Linked DNA regions of Homo sapiens. The protein of the gene in region 1 purifies or fractionates together with the protein of each later gene. This does not show direct contact. Each region holds a gene or a part of one and is shown in the gene's direction. Other genes may lie near its edges.

The links. Proteins that work in one complex are often made in the same cells at the same time.
Region 2: the proteins of TUBA3E (region 1) and TCP11L2 purify together in Homo sapiens (affinity purification with mass spectrometry; 3 studies listed by BioGRID and IntAct, with this or other methods). This does not show direct contact.

What each region holds. Positions count from the first base shown.
Region 1 is NC_000002.12:130,191,216-130,195,445, reverse strand, and holds the end of TUBA3E (tubulin alpha-3E chain), read left to right. Parts: intron 1-218; coding exon 219-367; intron 368-979; coding exon 980-1,660; intron 1,661-3,318; coding exon 3,319-3,615; 3' UTR 3,616-3,701; downstream 3,702-4,230. UniProt on the Homo sapiens protein: Tubulin is the major constituent of microtubules, a cylinder consisting of laterally associated linear protofilaments composed of alpha- and beta-tubulin heterodimers.
Region 2 is NC_000012.12:106,305,728-106,312,762, forward strand, and holds part of TCP11L2 (T-complex protein 11-like protein 2), read left to right. Parts: intron 1-1,554; exon of another isoform or gene 1,555-1,643; intron 1,644-3,203; exon of another isoform or gene 3,204-3,350; intron 3,351-5,313; 5' UTR 5,314-5,348; coding exon 5,349-5,505; intron 5,506-6,565; exon of another isoform or gene 6,566-6,707; intron 6,708-7,035. UniProt on the Homo sapiens protein: Promotes the migration of muscle-derived satellite cells (MDSCs) during differentiation throught interaction with FMNL2 and therefore may participate in microfilament assembly.

The sequences.
Region 1 (4,230 bases):
CACAAGCTGAGTTTAACGTCGTAGAGTCATAAATTGCATATGCAGTTTGGTTATCACACAGAGACATTTTCTACCAGACACTGCCACTGTTGACCTATGACATGTAGGTCATGTACTTTGAACAGCATGTGCTCTGTAGAAGTGAACACTCCTGGAATGTGTCCATCTTGGTGAGTACAGGCCTTAAAAATTCACAGTACACACTGTCTCTTTTGCAGATGAAGTGCGCACAGGGACCTACAGGCAGCTCTTCCACCCAGAGCAGCTGATCACCGGGAAGGAAGATGCAGCCAGTAATTACGCCAGGGGCCATTACACCATCGGCAAGGAGATTGTTGACCTAGTCCTGGACCGGATCCGCAAACTGGTAAGAAGAGAAGGTTTCATGTGGCCATTGTCTTGCATGGGAGGGGTAGTTCTTGGAATGTGAAAGGGAAGTCATTTTATCAACACTTAGACCAGCATCTTGGCCGGGCGCGGTGGCTCACACGTGTAATCCCAGCACTTTGAGAGGCTAAAGCAGGTGGATTACCTGAGGTCAGGAGTTTGAGACCAGCCTGGCCTACATGGTGAAACTCTATGTCTACTAAAAATACGAAAATTAGCTGGGTGTGGTGGCACACACCTGTACTGCCAGCTACTTGAGAGGCTGAGGCAGAAGAATTGCTTGAACTCGGAAGGTGGAGGTTGCAGTGAGCTGAGATTGCACCACTGCACTCTAACCTGGGCAACAGAGCAAGATTCCGTCTCAAACAAACAAGCAAAAACTTAGACCAGCATCTTGAGTCCTACTGAGTCTGCAATGGTGATTTGTCCGTAGATCTTTGCTTTTCTTTGCTTCAAAGTGTATTGCATGTTTATTATGGATGATTTGAATCCATATCAACTCTTTAGAGGCAAAGAGAAGCGGCCCTGGCTTGTTGGAGGTTGGTGGTGTGGCTTCCACGGGCATTGGCTCACGTTGTCTGGTTTCTCTCAGGCGGATCTGTGCACAGGACTGCAGGGCTTCCTCATCTTCCACAGCTTTGGGGGCGGCACTGGCTCTGGGTTCGCATCTCTGCTCATGGAGCGGCTCTCAGTGGATTACAGCAAGAAGTCCAAGCTAGAGTTTGCCATTTACCCAGCCCCCCAGGTCTCCACAGCCGTGGTGGAGCCCTACAACTCCATCCTAACCACCCACACGACCCTGGAACATTCTGACTGTGCCTTCATGGTCGACAATGAAGCCATCTATGACATATGTCGGCGCAACCTGGACATTGAACGTCCCACGTACACCAACCTCAATCGCCTGATTGGGCAGATCGTGTCCTCCATCACGGCCTCCCTGCGATTTGATGGGGCCCTGAATGTGGACTTGACGGAATTCCAGACCAACCTCGTGCCGTACCCCCGCATCCACTTCCCCCTGGCCACCTACGCCCCAGTCATCTCAGCTGAGAAGGCCTACCACGAGCAGCTGTCTGTGGCCGAGATCACCAATGCCTGCTTCGAGCCAGCCAATCAGATGGTCAAGTGTGACCCTCGCCATGGCAAGTACATGGCCTGCTGCATGTTGTACAGGGGGGACGTGGTCCCCAAAGACGTCAATGCGGCCATCGCCACCATCAAGACCAAGCGCACTATCCAGTTTGTGGATTGGTGCCCGACTGGATTTAAGGTATGACTGGGTGACATGGAGGCCTTTCAGCAAGCAGCAGATGCACAAAATAACACTGGCCTTGAAGGCCCACATCCTTTGGGGAGACTATCCCTGTTCCATGGGCTAGGCATGTGGGCATAAGTTAGTGAACCAGAGTTGATAATTGATTCAGTGATTTTTTTTTTTTTTTTTTTTTTGAGACAGTCTTGCTCTGTCGACCAGGCTGGAGTGCAGTGGTGCGATCTCAGCTAACTGCAACCTCTGCCTCCCGGGTTCAAGCAATTCTCTGGCCTCACCCTCCCAAGTAGCTGGGATTACAGGTACCTGCCACCATGCCCGGCTAATTTTTGTATTTTTAGTAGAGACGGGGTTTCGCCATGTTGGACAGGTTGGTCTTGAACTCCTGACCTCAGGTGATCTGCCTGCCTCAGCCTCCCAAAGTGCTGGGATTACAGTCGTGAGCCACTGCGCCCAGGTCAGTGATGTCTTTTGAACTCTTTCTGAGTCATCACACTATATATCTGTGGTGAGCTTTATTTATTTATTTATTTTTTGAGACAGGGTCTCGCTTTGTCTCTCAGGCTGTAGTAGTGTGATCCTGGCTCACTGCAACCTCTGCCTCCCAGACTCTAGCGATTCTCTCACCTCAGCCTCCCAAGTAGCTGGGAACACAGACATGTACCACCATGCCCGGGTAATTTTTTTTTTTTTTTGAGACAATCTTGCTCTGTCGTCCAGGTTGGAATGCAGTGGCACGATCTTGACTCACTGCAACCTCCACCTCCCGGGTTCAAGCACTTCTCTGCCTCAGCCTCCCAAGTAGCTGGGATTACAGGCACCTGCCACCACGCCTGGCTAATTTTTGTATTTTTAGTAGAGATGGGATTTTGCCATGTTGGCCAGGCTGGTCTCAAACCCCTGGCCTCACGTGATCTGCCCGCCTGTCTCCCAAAGTGCTGGGGTCACAGGCTTGAGCCACCACACCTGGCCTGATGTTGTCATTTATAGAACGAGTTTGCTGATCCCTGCTCTAGTTGACCCTGTGCACTGCTGCCAGGACCTCAGGTCATGTTATTACCGAGTTCTGAAACTTGGAATGCTTCCCCTTTGGTTACCACCTTGGAATGTCACCCCCTACTTAGGCAGGCACATGGACCACTTCGACCACTTCCTGCTGCTGTGGTAGCAGCATTCATATGACTCTTGACCCATGATCTGCTACCTTTGCATATCCACAGTGGCTTGTTTTGTGGGTCAGAAGTGGGTATGATGTTCCTTGTGATAGCATGGGCAAGAGTTGTGTACTCTGAATCTATCTGGGTGGAAGAAGTTTAGCTACAGAATTTAATTGTAATCTACAAAGAAGACAAGCAGCATACATTTTCAGAGGGAAGACTGTCTTCACCTGGGCACCTATCACATGTCACAGGTACTAGGACACAGCCCTTTAGGTAGCTTGGGATCCCACCAGGGTGGCTACCTCCAAGGTTCCTTTCTCTATTCCTCGTCTGGAACTATCACCCTGCCTGGTGCAGAGAAGGGCTTAGTGACGTTTGTGAGGTGAACTGAGCATTCTCCGTGTCACCTACAGGGTGTCTTCTGTTTGAGGAGAAGTAGCTACCATTTCTAGGTTTGATATAAGCTTCACGGACTGCTTTCTTTCCCTTCTCTGGCAGGTGGGCATTAACTACCAGCCCCCCACAGTGGTCCCCGGGGGAGACCTGGCCAAGGTGCAGCGGGCCGTGTGCATGCTGAGCAACACCACGGCCATTGCGGAGGCCTGGGCCCGCCTGGTCCATAAGTTCGATCTCATGTATGCCAAGTGGGCCTTTGTGCACTGGTACGTGGGCGAAGGCATGGAAGAGGGAGAGTTCTCTGAGGCCCGCGAGGACCTGGCAGCTCTAGAGAAGGATTGTGAAGAGGTGGGCGTGGATTCCGTGGAAGCTGAGGCTGAAGAAGGCGAAGCATACTGAGGGGAGGGTGTGGTGGGTTCTCCCCTGCCACCCCTAGGATGGCTGCTTTCAAGTTGTTTGCAATTAAAGATTCTGTATAAAACCAAGACCTCTGAGTGTCATGCAGCTTAGCTCTGCCTACAGGAGCTGGTGGGACCCCAGAGCCTGCATGGACAGCGGTGGGGTGCCAGCCTGCCCTGCTGGCGTGGGGTTGGGTGCAGCAGGACTGTACATAAGCAGCTGCCACAGAAGTAACCTGACCAGGGGAAAATAGTGTTTCTTCAAAGCCAGGCGTTCAATGTATAGATTTCCTAAATTCTAGGAAAGCTGAGTCAGGGTTTTCAACTGAATTTGTGATTTTTCGGGCTTCTTTATTGATGGGTCATGCTGGCTAAAAGGGAGCATGAAGTGTTGGAGGTCTGTGGATGGGGCTTGTCCATGAAGTCTCTAAAGCTGTGGGTCAAATATGTAAGGTCAGGACATTTTAGAGGGGGAAAGAATATTAACCGAGTTCCACACAGCATTCGTGACCCACAGAAGGTCACAACACACCCATGCTGACCCCAGTGCTCCACGGTAACCTGGAAGGCAGCGTTCGCCCTCTGTGCGCACACACAGCCACCCTGTCCCTCAGCA
Region 2 (7,035 bases), on another chromosome or scaffold:
GTTGGTGACATTAAATTTCAAATCTGAATGACAATAGGGAGCCAACCACAAGGAGATCAGGGAGAGGAACATTTCAGGGGCAGAGAACAGCAGGTATGAGTGCCCCGAAATAGGAAGTTTGGCATGTCTGAGGAACGCAAAGAAGATCATGAAGGGTTAGTGGGAGAACACTGCAGAATAAGGTGGGCAGAGTTAAGATCACAGAGGGTTGTAAACCATGGCCCAGTGACTTAGGAAAAGGGAACCCACCTAGGGATGAACTCTTAAAAAGGATTATCTATTTTGCCTTTTCTGGAGGGCTCTGGCCTATTTCCTGTTTTATTCTTTAGGCACTGTTCAAGAAGGACATCAGGACAAGTTTGACTGTCTAGAAGAGTTCTTGTAATAGAGTGGTATTTAAGCTATCACAGCAGTGGGCACAATCAGAATTTCAAAACTGCAAGAGGTTGGACTGTTCTGAATTTGAATCTTGAAGTTTCAGTTCAGCCTGTCATCTTCTCTTTTAACCTTCTATTTGGAAATACTTTCAAACTTACAGATAAAGTCGTGAGAATAGTATAAGGAATACCATGTTGTCTACCTTTTTCTCAGATTCACCTATTAACATTTTGCTCTATGTGCTTTATTATTTTTTCTCTCTTGCATTTGAATCATTTGAGAAAAAGTTGTATATGTCATGGCCCTTTATTCCTAAATACAAAACCACAGTACATTTCAACTTCAGTATATTTAACATTGGATAACAGACAGTAGATTCAAATATTGTTAACAGTGCTATTGATTGACTGATACTGTCCTTTACAGCATTTTTGCTTCAGTATAGGATCCACTCTAGGATCACCTATTGCACTCAGTTATCAAGTGTTTTTTTTTCATTTGGAACATATTCTCAACCTTTCTTTGTTTTTTATGACATTACATTTTCGGAACTTGTAACTTCTTTTAATAAGAATAAAATAATAGTTGACATCCGTCAGGCACTTACTAGGAGCTTAAGTACTTGACAGATACTATTTCAGTTAATCTTCACAACACTTCTACAAGGTGGATACTATTATTGTCCCATTTTACAAATGGCGAGTTCTCTGTTTCTAGTCAGTAAATAATCAAGAGGAGCCGGGATCAAGAACCCAGTCCACCTAGCTCCAGAGGCAATGTTCTTATGGCTTCAGTGACATGTATTATCATCAGTGTATCTTTGCAATTCTGAACCAGTGCAGAACTATTTGCAGATAGAGTTGCTGCAGAAAGGAAATCAGGAAGTAAAGCTGCACACGAGCTGAGGAATCACAAGCAAATTAAAAACCAATCTCCTCTCTATCTGTAGTGAAATACAGCACTAGCCCCTTCAAGTCCTTGTACCCATTCACACCTCTTAAATGTCAGTAGTCTTACTACCATTCATTTATTCAACAATAAATATTTGAATAAATATTTGAATGCTTGCTGCATTCCAGTGATGGTCTCAGAAGAAATGACATTATATTTATTATCACAAAGTGATGGAATAATACAATCAAAAATGTGAATATGACAGTACTTTTCTTTGAATAGTGACCTGCTATCGTGTTGGAGGCTTTGCTTGGAGTCATCTTCAGTCTTTTCTGTTGACTTTACCTTTGACCAGTGATTAAATCCTCCAGGTATGATGAGATGTGATGTTTCTGAAAAGTTGTTTGATTTACTTGTGAGTTGCAGTGGCAAAGGTTAGGTAGATCTAAGTTTGCATAAGGAGTATTACCTTTCTTAAAGATACAGCCTGGTTTCATTATCATCAGTCTAAAGGATAATCCAAAATAGTTTTTAAAGCAATCTAAATATCCTCAGTGCCTTTTGAATCAAGTAGGTTTGTCCCCAGGTGACTTACTTGGAAACTCAAGACCGAGAAAGGTAAGAGCAGGTATGAAGGAACTTGCGGAAGACCATTCACACAGTGATGGGCCATTCGCTTTTGGTTTTTGTCTGTCAAACAAGTGCCAAGAGTTCTGTTCTATGTTAACTACCAGCCTTGTTTGTCTGTTGAAGAATATGGTGTTATCCTGACATAAAACTGTTCTTCCCTCCAGAGTGTTTAATTCCTGAGGCAATGATATTAACAAAAAAAAGCAAATAATAGAAAACATTTGTATACTGTTTACTGTGTCAATGACTGTTCCAAACACGCTGCATGTATTGGGTACCTGAAATCTCACACCAACCCTATGAATTAGGTATTCTTAGTAAGCCTATATGAGGAAACAGACAAATTTTTAATAGAGTAATAATGGGCATTTTGGCTTCAAATACAGGTTTCTGTTTGGATACACTAAGGCCCAGTTGTAATGTGGAGGCTTCTACCCACTAAACAAGAGTTTCTAAACATTTTGAAGCTTTTAAATTTTCCATTGCAGCCCCTGTGCCAGGAACTCTACCTCCAGTGAATTGCTGGAAGAAAGTGTAGTTTCACATTGTTAAGCATGACTGCCATAAGCACATTTAATTTCTCAGAACTTCTAGTGATGCCTCATGGAACTCTGGGTTTGGAGCATCATATATTCCTTGCTGAGAGAAACCTTATGACTGGCCCAACCTCTCAGAAAAATGTGCATAAAGTCACACGGCACATTAATGATGAACCCAGGCCACAAACCCTGGACTCCTGACTCCCAATTATTTTAATCTTTGCACTTTTCTGCCTTGTTAAACACAGTTAAGAAACCTACCAAGTGTGCTATCCAGCTAAAGTAGAAAAATGAAATGGACAGTTAAAACTATTAAGCTAGTTCATAAATTCTCATGGCTGGAAGCTCTTATTCAATTTCACTTGGAAAAACAGCCAGAGCTCATTTGAGGGCAACCGAAGTAGAGAAAAATTAAGAGCAGAGCATGCATAGCACAGCGGTTACATTACAGGGGAATAACTGGGGGAAAAATGACTTAAAGTGGAAACAAACTTTAAGATATTCAAATAAGAGCATGACAAGGACCTGAGAATCTTGAGGTTTAAATCTAATAAGATAGGCTTAAGCAGTAGATTCTCTGCTCTAAGGCTTGGGCTTTGGCAGTACCAGCCTGGTTAACGTGTCATGATATCAGGTTGCAAATGTTCTGGTTGAAGCTGTACCAAATGAGATTCAGGGATTCTGATTTAGCTGACACTGAATGAATACTTGTCATATACTTGGCGCTGGTCATGGACAAGACACAAACTCTGCTTTATTAAGGAGATTCAGAAGTAGCCATGGGAAGAAAGGAACAAGGAACTAATGTACAAGGAACTAAGCGCTGTCATGGAGATACAGGAGACGCGCTGCAGACATACCAAGAGGAGTGCTATTCACTTTGGCTAGAAGCAAGGCTTCCTGGAGAAGGTAGCATTTGCAAGAAATGCCATCAGTGGGACATCAAATGTTGGCAAAGAGAGGAAGCAAACTAGAGGGGAGGGTGAACATTCCATTTAGGATTTGGGGTTTGGTGGCAGTGAAAGGTTTGAAGTAGCCCCTTTTCTTCTGTCTTCTCTCGCCTTCCCCTGAGCAGATTGGAGTTTAAGCTCAGGTAGAATTTAGTCTTCATGAGTTAGAGGAGGCTGTTTCACCACTGAGGATGCAAGGGCTCAAGAATCTTATAGCCAGTGTTCATGGCTTTGGGATTCTGGGATAAGGTGAGTGTCTCCACTCCACTCCTTGCCCTTCAGCCTGCACAAGTGGACTCTAGTGGTTTTCTGCTTGCAAAAGTGGTGGGCTCAGCAAGGATACATTTCTGTGGCAGGATTGAAGACGGTTGTTTAGGTGAGGCAAGGCGCAAATGACCTTAGACCTTTCACCCTTATTAGATCCCTCTCAGACTCATCCTTGTCCCCATCACCATCCAAGGAATTAAAAAAATTACTCTTTTTCTCTCAACAAAGGCTAGTGCCCCTTCTCCCGCTCTGCTAATCCTGAGCCTGCCTCTCCTTTCTTGTGTTTTCTCAACAATGCCTTATTCCCCCTTTTCCCATCTAGTAGCATTCAGTACACAGTTTTAGGTAGCTGGACTTGAGAACCACAAGAATAGGGCATTGTCTTTGTTTGGTTACTTTCCCCGGTGCTCAGTGCTCAAGTAGGCACTTGTTGAATATTAATGGAATCATTGAAGAAACTGCAGGCATTTTCAGACATACTATACATAGTTGTGGTTTCCCATTCTGGCCGCTTTAAAAGCACTGCATCCCTCATTGCATGGGCTGGTTTAGGTTTAAAAGGATTCAGTGAACTCTTCCTCTCATTATTGTCCATCCAGGATTTGAGGTGCCTTTCTCCTTGAGCCCGGGTTTCCCCTTCAGTGTCAGGTGATACCATATTCACATCAAGGTCAGCTCCCTCACGGGCCTGGCTGGTGCTCCTGGGACCAAGGCCTGGTCATCCTGTGTGCCTGTGATCTGCTTTCTGGGTAGTGTCCAAACCTGACGGCCCTTCCCTGGAAGGATTCTCATGTCCCAGAAACACTGGACATAGACACCAAGGGACTGGTTTTATCATGTAGTAAATCCCCTTATCCCTCTGAGTCTGTTCCCCCACTTGTGAGTCAGGATCCTACATGCTTGTGCACTCATAGGGTTGTGATGGGTACTTTGTAAATTGTCAAATCCTAACCATATATCAGGTCTTAATCTTCATATCACAGCAGTTCATGTGGAAATGGAGGGGGAAGAAGCTAAAGACTTGCCAGCCAGAGGTTTCATGCGGTCTTCCCCTTTCCCCAGGAGGTTCACAGAAAGCGTAAAGAGGCTGATTTCACAGCTATTTTATCTGAAACAAAGCAATAGGAGCAATAATAGCAGCTAACATTTGAGTACTGTGCCAAGCTCTTTAAGATGAATTCTATTCAATCTTCTGGCAACCCAATGAGAGGTTAGTCTTTCAGTCCAGTTTCACTATGAGGTAGGTAGTTAAGTGACCTTCCCAAGGTCTCATGGCAAAAGGCAGAACAGAACGAGAGATCTGACCCAAGTCCCACACTCCCGCCTTCTCATGTTTCAGCAACCCAGGAGGAGAGAGCATGTGTCCTGCATCTTTTTAAAAAGGACCTGCCATTACTTAGAGCTTCACATTTATAGTGGGTGTGTCCTGAGTAAGCTCACACCTATGGCTGTGGAATCCCTTTTCAGAAAGGCAATCTCGATGACCTAGTGATCTGGCCTAGTCCGGCCAAGGTGCTGGGGGAAGGATGAGGTCATCTGGGGGCCTTTCCAACACAGTGACACTTGTGGGGACAGTTGTCTACACTGGAAGAAGCATTGGTGGTGCCTGTGGAAGTACCACAGAACATTGACGCAGGGTCTGTTTGTCTGTGCAGGTGCTACCTTTTTACCCACACTTAAGTGACGCAAAATGCCCTTCAATGGCGAGAAGCAGTGTGTGGGAGAGGACCAGCCAAGCGATTCTGATTCTTCCCGGTTTTCCGAAAGCATGGCTTCGCTCAGTGACTATGAATGCTCCAGGCAGAGCTTTGCAAGTGACTCCTCCAGCAAATCCAGCTCTCCTGCTTGTGAGCCGATGGGGGAGCAGGGGTTGTGGGTGGCAGGGGTACTTCTAGATATGTGTTGGATTTGAAAACTCAGAAACGCCTGAGAGCAACAGACTTCCCCTCCTTTCTAGATGCACCAGAATAGCACTGCAGAGGCACTGCAGCTTTCCGGGACACATTCTCAGAAATAGCCACTAAAGTTTACAACCTGCTGATTTTTATTTTGATCACTGCTTCCGATCTGTTTCGGTCTGATGATAAGTCAGGACTTCAACCCCATCTGTCTTTTCTCCCAAACAGCAGAAAGCCATTCCTTGAGATTACTTCTTAGATCTCCACTGAAGGATAAATTCAAATTGGTCTTTTCTGATTATTCCTGATTTACATTGAAGGAAACTGGCCTTCATTGAAAGGTCAGGAAGGAAGTGAAATAATCTAAAGGGTTTCATGTTGATTTCAAAAAAATATTGTGCAAATCACCCCAGGAAGGTACCCACAAGGAGAATTACTACATTAGGGGTGTGAGAAAGAGTTAAAAGAGAGGCCACAGCAAAAGGAGATATCTTTTTCCCGTTTTTGCATGTAGAAACTAGAGATGGGTAAAGCAGATGTGTTTGCCTTTTTTTTTTTAATTGGCACTTTATTTAGTAAATATAACAGCTTTAACTGGCAAAGCAAATGCAGGAAAAAGCAACTAATGTTTAATATGCTGAACTGTCCACTTCTTACAAATTGCTTCATTTGTATTTTAAATTTTTACATTCTCATTTTTTAAAACTTAGAAGATACATAAGAATAGAGAAAAGAAAACATTGCCTATGATATCACTCAAAGACGACAGCTGGCAGTGCTTTGCCGTATCTTTATCCTTCACATAGACATATGTGTGTATATGTGTGTGGACTCTTCTTGCTTAGTATTATAACTAAAACATTTACTCATGATTACATGTTTTTGAAACATTGGTTTTATGAATACTTATTACTTTACCAAGTGAATGTACGGTAAAATTAACCATTGATTAATCACTGGACATTTAGTTTCCATTTTTTTTTTTTTTTTTTTTTGCTGTTATAAATAGTGCTTTATGAACATCTTACTGCATGAAGCCTTTCTGGAAAGACTTTTGGATATCACTGGATTATTGGACCAAAGTATATAGACATTTTTAAGGAGAATCTTGAGTCAGACCTGGCAAAAGAAATTAACAGCAGCCACCCCAGGTTTCTGTGCCTTTTCTCACTCTTTATACTGTATGTGGTGTTGTTGCATCTGACACCAGGGTACCTAGGCATCCTGAAGAAGGGTTTTACCAATTCTGTGTATCACCTTTCTCTTCTTCCTCCTCTTTCCCTGATCCTCCTCCTCATCTTCTCCTAAAAATTAGGTAGCCAGGCGCAGTGGCTCACACCTGTAATCCCAGCACTTTGAGAGGCTGAGGCAGGCAAATCACCTGAGGTCAGGAGTTCAAGACCACCTGGCCAACATGGTGAAACCCCATCTCTACTAAAAATACAAAAATTAGCTGAGCATGGTGGCATGCACCTGTAG